2 separate regions of the Homo sapiens genome follow, and region 1 is linked to region 2. The links come from fine-mapping of genetic effects on gene expression. A gene starts in region 2. The other region holds a variant in brackets. All regions are shown on one strand. Distances are between the middles of the regions. Region 1 has its middle 9.0 kb from the start of OR1L3. Region 2 holds the start of PTGS1 (prostaglandin-endoperoxide synthase 1).

Region 1 (5,375 bases), 310 kb before region 2:
CTTCCTTCTTTTCCAGGTCCTGGATTTTATTACTTTCTAATGCTGCTAATTTCAGGATTGTGAGATCAGTCTGAATAATTTTAAAGGATAACTTCTTTGGTTGTACAATAGGGTGGTCCCCAAATGCTAATGCAGTAGGAGAAGGGCTATTTGGTCGAAGAGATGAGGAAGGAGTGGAATGTGAATGTGAATTTTGAGGAGAACTGATTGCAGGAGGTATGCCTCTTACTGGACTTGAGCCATTTCCACCCTGGTATTCAAAATAGTCACTACTTTTGTGGCCACGTCCCCCCAATACTTTTTCCCTGACAATTTTCATTCTGGTTTTCTGCTTTTCTCTATCTTCCCCTGGATGATTCTGATTGTTTCTTCTCTGGCTTCTCAAGGGAACCCACTGCAGATAAAGTCCAGTCACTGTTATAGTCCTTTCAGCTGCCTGCCAGTCGTTTCTCTGATTCTTTGTCACTTAAAGATCCTAAGCTTCCAAAACTGTGATAAGAGCTTTCATTATCTGTTGAGGCTTTAGCTCCAACACTGCAACTGCTGGTACTCCCAGTGTTCCCACTTACAACTCCAATAAATCTAGCTTCCAATAACTCTTGCCTTCTTGGATTCAGACTACAAAGCTCATCCATTGCACCTTCCCTGGGCCTCCTGGATGGTGGTGTGTGTTTCATCAGGGACCTGGCTGCCGCTTGCCGCTGAGCCTGGAGTTGGAGATGTGGAGAGGTGGGACCAAGATGGTGGCCTCTCCAAACTTCCACTCCTACTTTGGACACTCATCAAGCTGCTTTCTGGGAACCTGACTCCCACTCTGCAATGACAGCAGTGACAATGGCACTGGCACCTGCCTCCATCATAGTGGGGGCTTGGCTGAGGGTGAGCAAGAGAGTGAGGGCAGGGAGGGGAGAGTCAAGGGGATGGGGGAGGAAACGAGGGGAGGTGGGGAGGAAAGAGGTGAGGGAAGGAGAGCGGATGGGGAGGAGGGAAAGGGGGAGAAGTAAGGGAGTGGGTGGGCGCACCAGAGAAGAGGCTGAGGGAAGGAGCCCAGTGGCTGAGGTGTGGTGGGGGCACCCACCAGGGCTAGGGTCTGAGTGTGGGCCTATTGCTGTTTTTGATTTAAAGTCTGTTTTATCTAATAGAAATATAGCTACACGTACTTGCTTTTGATTTCCAATTGCATGAACTATCTTTTCCCACTCTTTTACTTTCAGTCTGTGTGTGTCTTTATGGGTAAAGTGAGTTTCTCGTTAGCAGCGTATAGCTGGATCTTGATTTTATTTTATTCATTATGCCGATCTTTATCTTTTAAGTGGAACATTTATTTACATTCAAGATTATTATTGATATGTGAGGCTTTGTTTCTGTCATATTATTAATTTTTACAAATCGTTTTATAATTTTTTTCTTTTTTTTCTCTTTTTATCTTTACGGTTTTAACAAATTATGTCATGTTGCCATTTGATTCTTTTCTCCTCCTCCTTTGTGTGATTATTTTATAAGAATTGTTAGTTTTATTCTTCCATGTGTTTTCATCATAATGAATACTGACCTTTCATTTCCATGTTTAAGACTCCTCTGAACATTTCCTGCATAGCCAGTCTAGAGGTGACAAATTTATTCAGCATTTGATTGTCTGAGAAAGACTTCATTTCTCCTGCATTTATGAAGCTTTTTCTGGTAGAATATAAAATTCTTGGCTGACAGGTTTTCTTTCTAGTGCTTTGAAAATGCCATCCCATTGTCTTCTGACCTATAAGGTTTCTGCTGAAAAGTCTGCTGTTAATCTGATGAGGTTTCCTTTATAGATGACTAGCTGCTTTTCTCTTGCTAATTTTAAAATTCTTTCATTTACTTTGACTTTAGACATTCTGAATAATACATGTTATGTTGAAGTCTTTTTGCAATGTTTTTTCCTGGGGATAGCTGGGCCTCCTATATCTGGATATCAGACTCTCTTGCTAGGCTTGGGAAATTTTCATCAGCTATTTCCTCAAATAGATTTTCTAAACTTTTTGATCACTCTTCCCCCTTGGAATACCAATAATTCATAGGTTTGCTCATCTTATGTAGTCCCAGGTGTCTAGAAGGCTTTGCTCCTTCTTTCTTATTCTTTTTCTTTACTTTTGTCTAACTGTATTATTTCAAAAGACTTGTCTTCTATTTCTGAGATTCTTCCTTCTGCTTTCTAGTCTATTATTGAAGTTTTCAAATGTATGTTTTATTTCCTTCAATGATTTTTGTTTTGAGACAGTATTGCTCTGTTGCCCAGGCTGTAGTGCAGTGGTGTGAACATAGCTCACTGCAGCCTTGAACTCTTGGGCTCAAGTGATCCTCCAGCCTCAGCCTCCCAAGTAACTGGGACTACAGGCATGCACCACTGTGCCTGGGTGATTTTTGTATTTTTTTTTTTTTTTTTGTGGGGATGGGATCTTGTTATGTTGCCCAGGCTGGACTTGAACTCATGACCTCAAGTGATCCTCCTACCTTGGCCTTCCCAAATGCTGGGATTCTAGGCATGAGCCACTGCACTCCACAGTGAATGAATTTTTCATTCCAGAATTTCTGCTTTTTTTTCCCTAAAGATATCTATCTCCTTGGTAATTTTTTAGTCATATCCTAAGTTGATTTTTGGACTTCTTTATATTAGTTTTTAGATTTCTCTTGCATCTCATTGAGCTCCTTTAAAAATCAATATTTTGAATCTTTTACTTGACATTTTGAGGAATTTTTTTTATTGGGATCTGTTGCAGGACAGTTGTGGTCCTTTGGTGGTGTTATATTTCCCCAATTTTTCATGTTTTTTGTGTCCTTTTGATATCTGAGCATCTGGTGAAGCAGTTGCTGGTTCCAATTTTTTTTTGAAATTGCTTTGGTAAGGGAATTTCTTTCCTGAAGATATGTGTATGTTGTTGGTTGAGAAGGATACTTTGGCTAGGATTATGGGTGCCTGCAATA[G/C]TGTGATCTTTGCATGAACTCTTTAGCAGTATACAGAGTCAGTGGTATCCGTGATTTCCTCAGTGGCTTAGGGTACAGTTATTAGCTGAGGTTGTGGCAAGATTTTGCTGGGGACTTGGACACTGACTGAGCCAGTCTCCAGGTCCCTGTGGTGGCAGCAGTGGGTTTAATGTGCCTGTTTTTAAGCCCAGAGCAACTTACAGTGACTTTGGTGTTAAAGTGTCCTGGAGGGCTGGTTCTTGGGCCCCAAGTGGCTTGACTAGAAGCTAGTAGTGGGATTGGTAGGCCAGGTGTGTGGGTGGGTTCTCATATCCTGTGACAGCTGGTGTAATGTGGGTGATGGCAGTATCAGTGGTGGAGCAAACCACAGGGACCCGAGTGGTCCATATTGGTGTTCTTGATAGCTGTGATGGGTTGAGCAGGCTAGTCCCCAGTCCCAGAGCCACTGTAGCAGGGTGATGGGTATTACCCTTAGTGTGCTTAGGAGAGCTTTGCCTCCCCTGTCTCTCTCCCAGCTGAGTGGCAGCTGCAGCTGTATTGCCTTGAACTTGGGCCAAGTGTGGGGCACAGCTCAGTGTTAAACTCTCGAAATGAAGCTAGCTGTCAGTTTGTGACCAGAGAGGGGAGGACCCCCTAAGGCAAGCAGTATGGGCAAGAAACTATGGGGAATGGGGTCTGCTCAAGTCTTAGTCTCACAGCAGCCTGTAGCAGGGTAGTGAATATTGTCCTATATATGTGTAGGACAGCTTGGTTTCCTTGTCCCTTTTTGACTGGGTGCTGGCTGCAGCCATGGCAACTCAAACTTGGCCCAAGGGTGAGGCAAATCCCAGGATTAAACTCTTAAAATGGTGTCAGTTGTGGGCTTATTACCAGAGAGCGTGGATCCCCTCTCAGGTGAGCACCATGGGCAAGAAGCTGTGGGAAATGTGGTCTGCTCATATCTCAATCTCAACAGCATTCCACAGCAGAGTGGTAGGGATCCTCCCAGGGGTGCACGGGAGCACCCAGTCTCTCCTATCTCTCCTTGAAGCAGCACAGTGGCAGCAGCTAAGTATGTAGATCGCCAGTATCTGGGCTCTCTAAATGGCACCTGGCTGAGGCTGGTCTAGGCTCGGATGCCTGTGAGATTCCATGTGGGTTCCCTTTCTGGAATGACATCTCTGTGCAATCTTTAGGCAGCTCTGTATGTCAGGCCCAAGGTCTAGAGGGTCAAAGTTTTCTCCCAAAGTCCAGAGAAACCTGGGAGTTTCTCTCTTACTGTTTCCCCATATCTAGGAGCCTCTCTCAGCTCTCAGTTAGTCCCTCACTAGGCAAGGTGTCCTGAACCTTCTCTTTACTTATTTTTGGTGCTTCTTGTATTTTCTCTGGTGAATCCTAGCATTCTCTTCTAGATGGTCTGTTTGAAATGTACCTACTTTCTATTCTGGTTCCTCTCCCTGGAGGAGGAACATACTACCTTCATCTAGTCAGCCTTCTTAATCCCTTTCTTGTCTAAACTGTTCTATTTTCCATTAAATTCATACTCTGGATGAAGCAACTTTAGTTCATCTTCTTAGGATGTTCAAATCAGGTCTTCCATCTTATCACATTAGGTATTATGAAAGGAACAGGTAAGAGAGTGACAGCATCAACAACAACATTGACTAAATGCTTACTATGAACCAGGCACTGGTCTAAGCATTTTATACACATAAAACATTTAATCTTCACAGTAATTCTTGAATGTTGAAACCATTTTATGGATAAAAAACAATGTAACATTTCTGTTACATTAGGATTAGAGACAAGTGTATTCTTGGGGCAAACAGGAAATGGGTTAAACAATACCATATTGCTCACTGAAAATTTTCTAAGAGAATAGATTTTAGGTACTTTTTAGTACACTAGAAAAGCTAACTATGTAAGATGATGGATATGTTCATTTGCTTGACTATAATAATAATTTCACTATGTATACATATATCAGAACATCATGTTGTACACCTTCAATATATACAATACAAAATCTCAAGAAAATTTTTGTGAAATTGATTAACCATTGTTAAATTTTCTCTAGAAAAGAAATTGTTTAAGAATGATCAAAAAAATTAAAAATAACAACGATGGAGGACTTGCCCTAAAAGATTTTTTAAAAGCTCTTAAGTTATAGCAATTAAAGGCAGGAGAATGGTGTGAACCCGGGAGGCAGAGCTTGCAGTGAGCCGAGATCGCGCCACTGCACTCCAGCCTGGGCGACAGAGCAAGATTCCGTCTTAAAAAAAAAAAAATGTACATATTGCTACAGTTTGAATGTGTCACACAAAGTTCATTTGTTAAAAACCTAATCCCCAATGTAACAGTATTGAGAAGTGGGAACTTTAAGAGGTGATTGGGTCATGAGGGCTCTGTCTTCATAAATGGTTCAATGCTGTTATCTC
Region 2 (5,375 bases):
TTCGAGGTCCAGTCCAAAAGTCATCAGATCCAAGAAGCCTCCCTCAATTCTTCGCACTGAGAGGCAGCTGCTCCCTCCCCTGAGCTCCGCACACCCCTGCTCCCTTCCCTGGGCTCCCTATACCCCTGCTTCCTCCCATGAGCTCCGCACAGCCCTGGTCCCCTTGGATGACAGTCTGTTGGCATTTCTGGCTCCACCATCAGCCTGTCAGCTCCTCCCAGCTCCGTGTCTCCAGGCCCCAGCCAAAGACTGGCATAAATAACCCTTGGGGATAAAAAAAAACAATTCCGTGTAAACATTTATTATACAAAAGGAAACAGAAAAGGCAAAAAACAAAATAGCACAGACCATGGCTCATTGTGCATTAGTGAATGGACTAAAAAAGAATACAGACGGGTGGGACCTGTATACCAAGAGTGCCTGGATGAGGCCAGATGGGGCCTCAGAGGAAGTGCTGGGCTGATCCAGGGACTGACAAGATGGGTCAGCGAGGCAACCTGAAGAGCCCCTTCTACTCCCCACCACCAGCTCACTGTGAGGATTCAGACAAGTGGCTTCACTCCCTCTGGGCCTCAGAGTCCCCTTCTGTAGACTGGGTCTAACGCATCTCTCTGGCAGGGCTGTTGAGAGCACCAAAGAGGTGGATGTCCACAACCAACCTTTGTAAACTTTAAAGTGCTGGCCACATGAGTCTTCCTCCTCCTCTTCCCATAAACCAGACTTTTATTCAACGCAATCCCTTTCCTAGAGCACCCTCCGTCCTCTCTTTGGGTCCCCTAAATGCCACCCACCCAAAGCCCGTTTCAGGAAACTTGGTCTGATCCAAAATCCATGTACATATCTTTCCTCTTTCCCCCACGCACCAGATCCTTAGAGCATCACAGCAGAAAGTGCGGACTCCCTCTGCTCCCTCCTGCCCTCTCTGGGCCTCATTTTAGAGATTTTACACAGCTAGGTGGTGGAGGAAACTATATCCAACTGGGACACATGCTCACACACACGCACACACACAAGCAGCGAGCTGGGGGAGGAAGGTTGGCTGAGCGAGGAGCTGAATTCCTTCACCTGGAACCTGGCACATGCATGGGGGAGGGAAGGGCGGAATTTCCCCATCAACCTCCCCCATGAAACCCAGAGTGGCTCCGGGTCCATTGTGGGTAGAAGCAGCTTTCTGTGGAAAGACCTTGCGAAGTGTGTGGACGCAGACAGACCTGAGTTCAGATCCTGGGCCCACCATGTATTTTGTGAGCTTGGGGAATCATGGCACCTACTGAGCCTCGGTTTCCTCATTTGCTCAATGGGGATCTCTTAAACCCCAGATGAAGCATCCCGGCTCCTAAATGTATTTCCATCTCCCATGTTCTCCCGAAGTCTTCACCAGGGGAGACCTTCTCCACTGGCAATGGGAATCAGGATGGGTTCCCAGACGGTTAGAGGCTGGAGAAAGGGAACTCATTTCCCTTGGTGCCTGCGGCTTCCTCCCAAAGAGGCCCCTATAGGAAACAGCGGGGTTGTTGGGTGCAGAGGCTGCTTAGACATCTGGGGCCCAGAACAGGTGAGGGGGATGGATAGGGACTGTCCCTTCTCCCCAAGTTGGCACCAGATCCCAGTCTGCTGTTTCCCCTGAAAGAACTAGATAGCCCATTAGCCAAGGCCACACCGCCGGGGGGGCTTCAGGGAGCCCCCATCCCACCAAAAGACTCAGCCTCAGTCTTTCTCAGCACCGCGAGCAGAAAGGGGAAGCTGGGCCCGCTGGAGGGGAAAGGAGGGGGTTGAAACCAGGCCAGGGGCGCAAGACCGGGGATTCCCTTGGGGAGGGATGGGGCCGCCTACCTGGCGTGGGCGCCCCTGGGTCCGCGAGCAGGACGGGGAGCGGCGGGAGCAGGAGCAGGAACAGCAAGAACCAGAGCAAGAGACTCCCTGCAGAGGAGAGAGATGAGGGGCTGAGCCTGGCATTCAAGGCTCCACCAGGAGGCCAAGAAAATTCCCCACCGGGCACCGGGGTCGCACTCACGGCTCATGGCGCGGCTGCTGGGGTGCGGGACGCAGAGTGCAGGCTCCTGTGCGTGCGCCTCGCACACTGCCCGGAGCTCCAGCCCATCCCCTCCCCACCCTTCCCCCGGCTCCACCCCCGCTCCTCCCTCCAGCTGTCACCTCGGCTGCCCGCTTACTTCCTCTGCCCAGCCCCGGCCAAGGCATTTTATTAATTAGTGTATGCTCGCCGCTAAAGCGGCTTTTCACCCAAGATCCTTGAAGCACTTACGTTTCTGATGCCTGGTGGCACTAGATATAGACAGGAAACTGAGGCTCAGAGACGATGCTCAATGCTGAGGTCACCCAGGGCTTAGGGACAGAACTGGGGATGGAAGCGGCTCGTCTGAACCACATACCCTGCCCCGCAGAGAAGAAAGGGTCTCAGAGTCCCCTTCTGTAAAATGGGTCTAACGCACTCTACAGAAAAGGGTAGAGAAGAAAAGGGGCTAGAAACAGGGCAGTCTGCAGAGAAGAAAGGGGGCTAGAAATGGGGCAGTCCAGCCTGGCCTGCTGATGGTTTCCTAGATGAGAAACTCACTACTCCTCAGACAGATCTAACAGGAAGGACTTACTTCCCCCATGGGCTGGGCTCCGCCCCCTGAAGCCACAGGTCTCTGCCAGAAATGAAAAGACCGGGCTCCAAACTCCAAGAGAGCCTAGTTCAAATCCAGACTCCACAGCTTACTGGCCGTGTCACCTTGGACAAGGTACTTATCTTTTCTAGCCCTCAGTATTCTCATCTATAAAATCGGCTTAATAGCAAAAACCATCCCAGAGGGTGGTTGTAAGATTCAATGAGGGAATGCACACAAATCTCCTGGTGCAGTGTCCAGCATGTAGTAGGTGCTCAGTTATCGGAAGGCATTTTTTCAAAGATCTCTGAACTCAGATTCCAGGGCTGGCCAGGGTCCATGCTGTAGCTAGACTCACATCCACCGCCGAATTTATAGAATCCCAGCATCCAGCTCTCCTTTTCGCCAGCTCAGGAAGCACCTAGAAGGAGGAAGGAATAGGTCCAAGATCACCCAAAGTCCCATGGTGCTGGCACCCACAAGTCATCTCCCTCAGTTTCCCCAGCACACCCAGCCATCCTGTGGGCCCCACAGTGGGGAAAGCCGGCAGGAGAGCTCAGAGGTTCTTGTGCTGGCTCCTGGGCATCACTGGGTGCAGGGTAGAAATTATGCCAGGTGGGAGAGGTGAAACCTGCTGGGAAGCCCCTCCCCCATTCTCACCCAAGCTGTTCCCATGCTCCCCTGGGACAAAAGCCAGCTGCCCTAGGGAGACAGAGCAAGCCAGGGCAGACCTGGAGAAGGAGTGGGGCATTGGAGGGCCCTGGGGCTCTCAGGGTGCCGGGACCGGCTTCAGCCTTCCCTTCCTCCCCAAATCAAGGGCCCCCTAGCATTTACAGGGCAAGGAGATGGGATTATCAGCAAAAGGGATGGGGACAGGGTGGAGGTGTGGGGGTCCAGTTGTCCAAAGAAAGGGGGAGTTTCTGGTGAGAAGAAAGGAGAGACGGGCTTGAATGAGGTTCCATCTTCCACTCCCAGGCCCTCCCTCCCTTTGGGCCCTGAGCCCATCAAGTCACCACACCTGTGCCTCCTGCTGACTTCCAAGCCACCCATCTGCACTCAAAACAAGAAACACTTGTGTGGCCCTGGCACTGATGGGAAGAGCCTTCACCTCAGAATCAGAAGTGAGTTCAAGTCACTTCTTCCATAGCGTGACCTTAAACAAGCCGCTAGGCCTCACTGGGCCTCTGTTTCCCCATTTGAACAACAGAATGAGCAGATCAGATGGTCTCTGAGGACTGGTCCAGTTCCAGCATGGAGCAATTGAGCCCTCACTGCAGCCAGGCTCTGTGACCAGCACCACAGATCTCAACACAGCTGCAATACAGGAGAGGATGGAGTCTGAGAGAGCAGGCAGGGTGCCGAGGCAGCCCTCCAGGGATGAGGCAGGACCAAGAGCATGGAGTGGGGAGAAGGTAGATGAGAGAAATGGTGGCAGAAGTGCCAGGGCTTGGTGACCGATTAGCACTAGAGCTTAGGGGAAGAAAGGTGCTGAGGACACCTAGCCTTCTGGCTCAATGCTGGTGGTAATATCCAGGGAAGGGGAGCTGGCATGGGTAGGTGGAATTTGAATTTGGGCTTCTTGTATTTGATCCACTTCAAGGAATGAGGAGGATCAAACCTTCCCTGCCTTCTCCAGCTTGGCCCATGGGCCAGCACCCCCAACCGCCCCAGCATGCAGCTGGATACACAGGGGAGAGGTCTGGGGTAGCCCTTGCCCCAGCCCTGGGAAAGAGACCACAGCACAGGGCCACCTTTTCCTGCTCCCTACTGCAAAGCTATAGTCTAAATGCCTAGGACTGGTGTCACCATCCTAGTCCTCAAGATTGTGAGCTTCCACTTATAGGGCAAGTCCACCTCCCATGTCCCCTGGTAGGCCTCCTCTAACATGCCTCCTCCTCCCCCTTCTCTCCTCTAGGAAGCCCCTGTGCCTTCCCTGGCCACAGCAGTGCCACTCCTGATCACATTGTCCCTCTGCCCCCAAACATTATGAGGCTATAAGAGTCCTGGTCACTCTTGTAGCCCCAAGGCCAAGCATAGGATCTGGCGGATAAAAGACATCCAGGGAATGTTTGTTGCTTGAACAAAGAAATGAATGAGTATCTAAAAGAGTAGTGAATGCATTAAAAAAACAGACCAGGTCCAGCACCAGCCTCATCGAAGTGACTGCCAACCACCCATCTGCTGTGACGGCCACCAAAAGTATCACTGCCTGCCTCAGTTTCCCTGCCTTCTCCAGCTTGTCCCATGGGCCAGCACCCCCAGCTGTCCCACAGGCCCAGCTTCACCCCAGGCCCTGAGCCCTTCCCAGCTAAGGCAGCAAGGACCTCCTTCCCTATACCCCACTGGTAACAAGGGATAGGATTTCTCTCTGCATAGCCCCCTCCCCATTATCCACACCAATCACGTGCCCTCCTGCTCACCCTAGCTACAGCCTGGATTGTAATGCTCCTGGAGAGGTCTCACTCCTGCTGGGCCCCACCCACTATTTGGAAAACCAGAGCTGACTCTTACCTGAATCACTCATGGACCCAGCCCCACCCGGCCCCACCTGTGTAGGCAGCTTCTCAGTCAGGCAGGAAGGCTCTGGACTCAATCCAATATCTCTTCAAATCCCAGTCCTCCACCCCACCTGACCTCTCAGTGTGACCTTAAGCAGCAAACTGCCCTTTGTGGACCTCAGTTCCCCCACCTGTAAAAACGTGGTTAATAATGCCACTCTTGCAAGAGTTGTTGTGAGGATGAAGTAAGATAGTCCCTGTGAGCATCCCC

The links. PIP is the estimated chance that this variant, and not a neighbour inherited with it, causes the effect.
Region 1: its variant is the best candidate, but not a certain one, in a credible set for the expression of PTGS1 in esophagus muscle (GTEx, PIP 0.76).

The regions. Positions count from the first base shown.
Region 1 is chr9:122,681,447-122,686,821 of GRCh38, reverse strand. It overlaps the pseudogene TLK1P1. Among named protein-coding and RNA genes, the nearest start is that of OR1L3, 9.0 kb to the right of the region's middle. The variant G/C (reference allele first, on the strand shown) is at 2,959.
Region 2 is chr9:122,367,731-122,373,105 of GRCh38, reverse strand. PTGS1 (prostaglandin-endoperoxide synthase 1) reads right to left here and starts at 2,082. Exons shown (of 11, transcript NM_000962.4): 1 at 2,015-2,082; 2 at 1,834-1,920. The coding sequence starts at 2,021.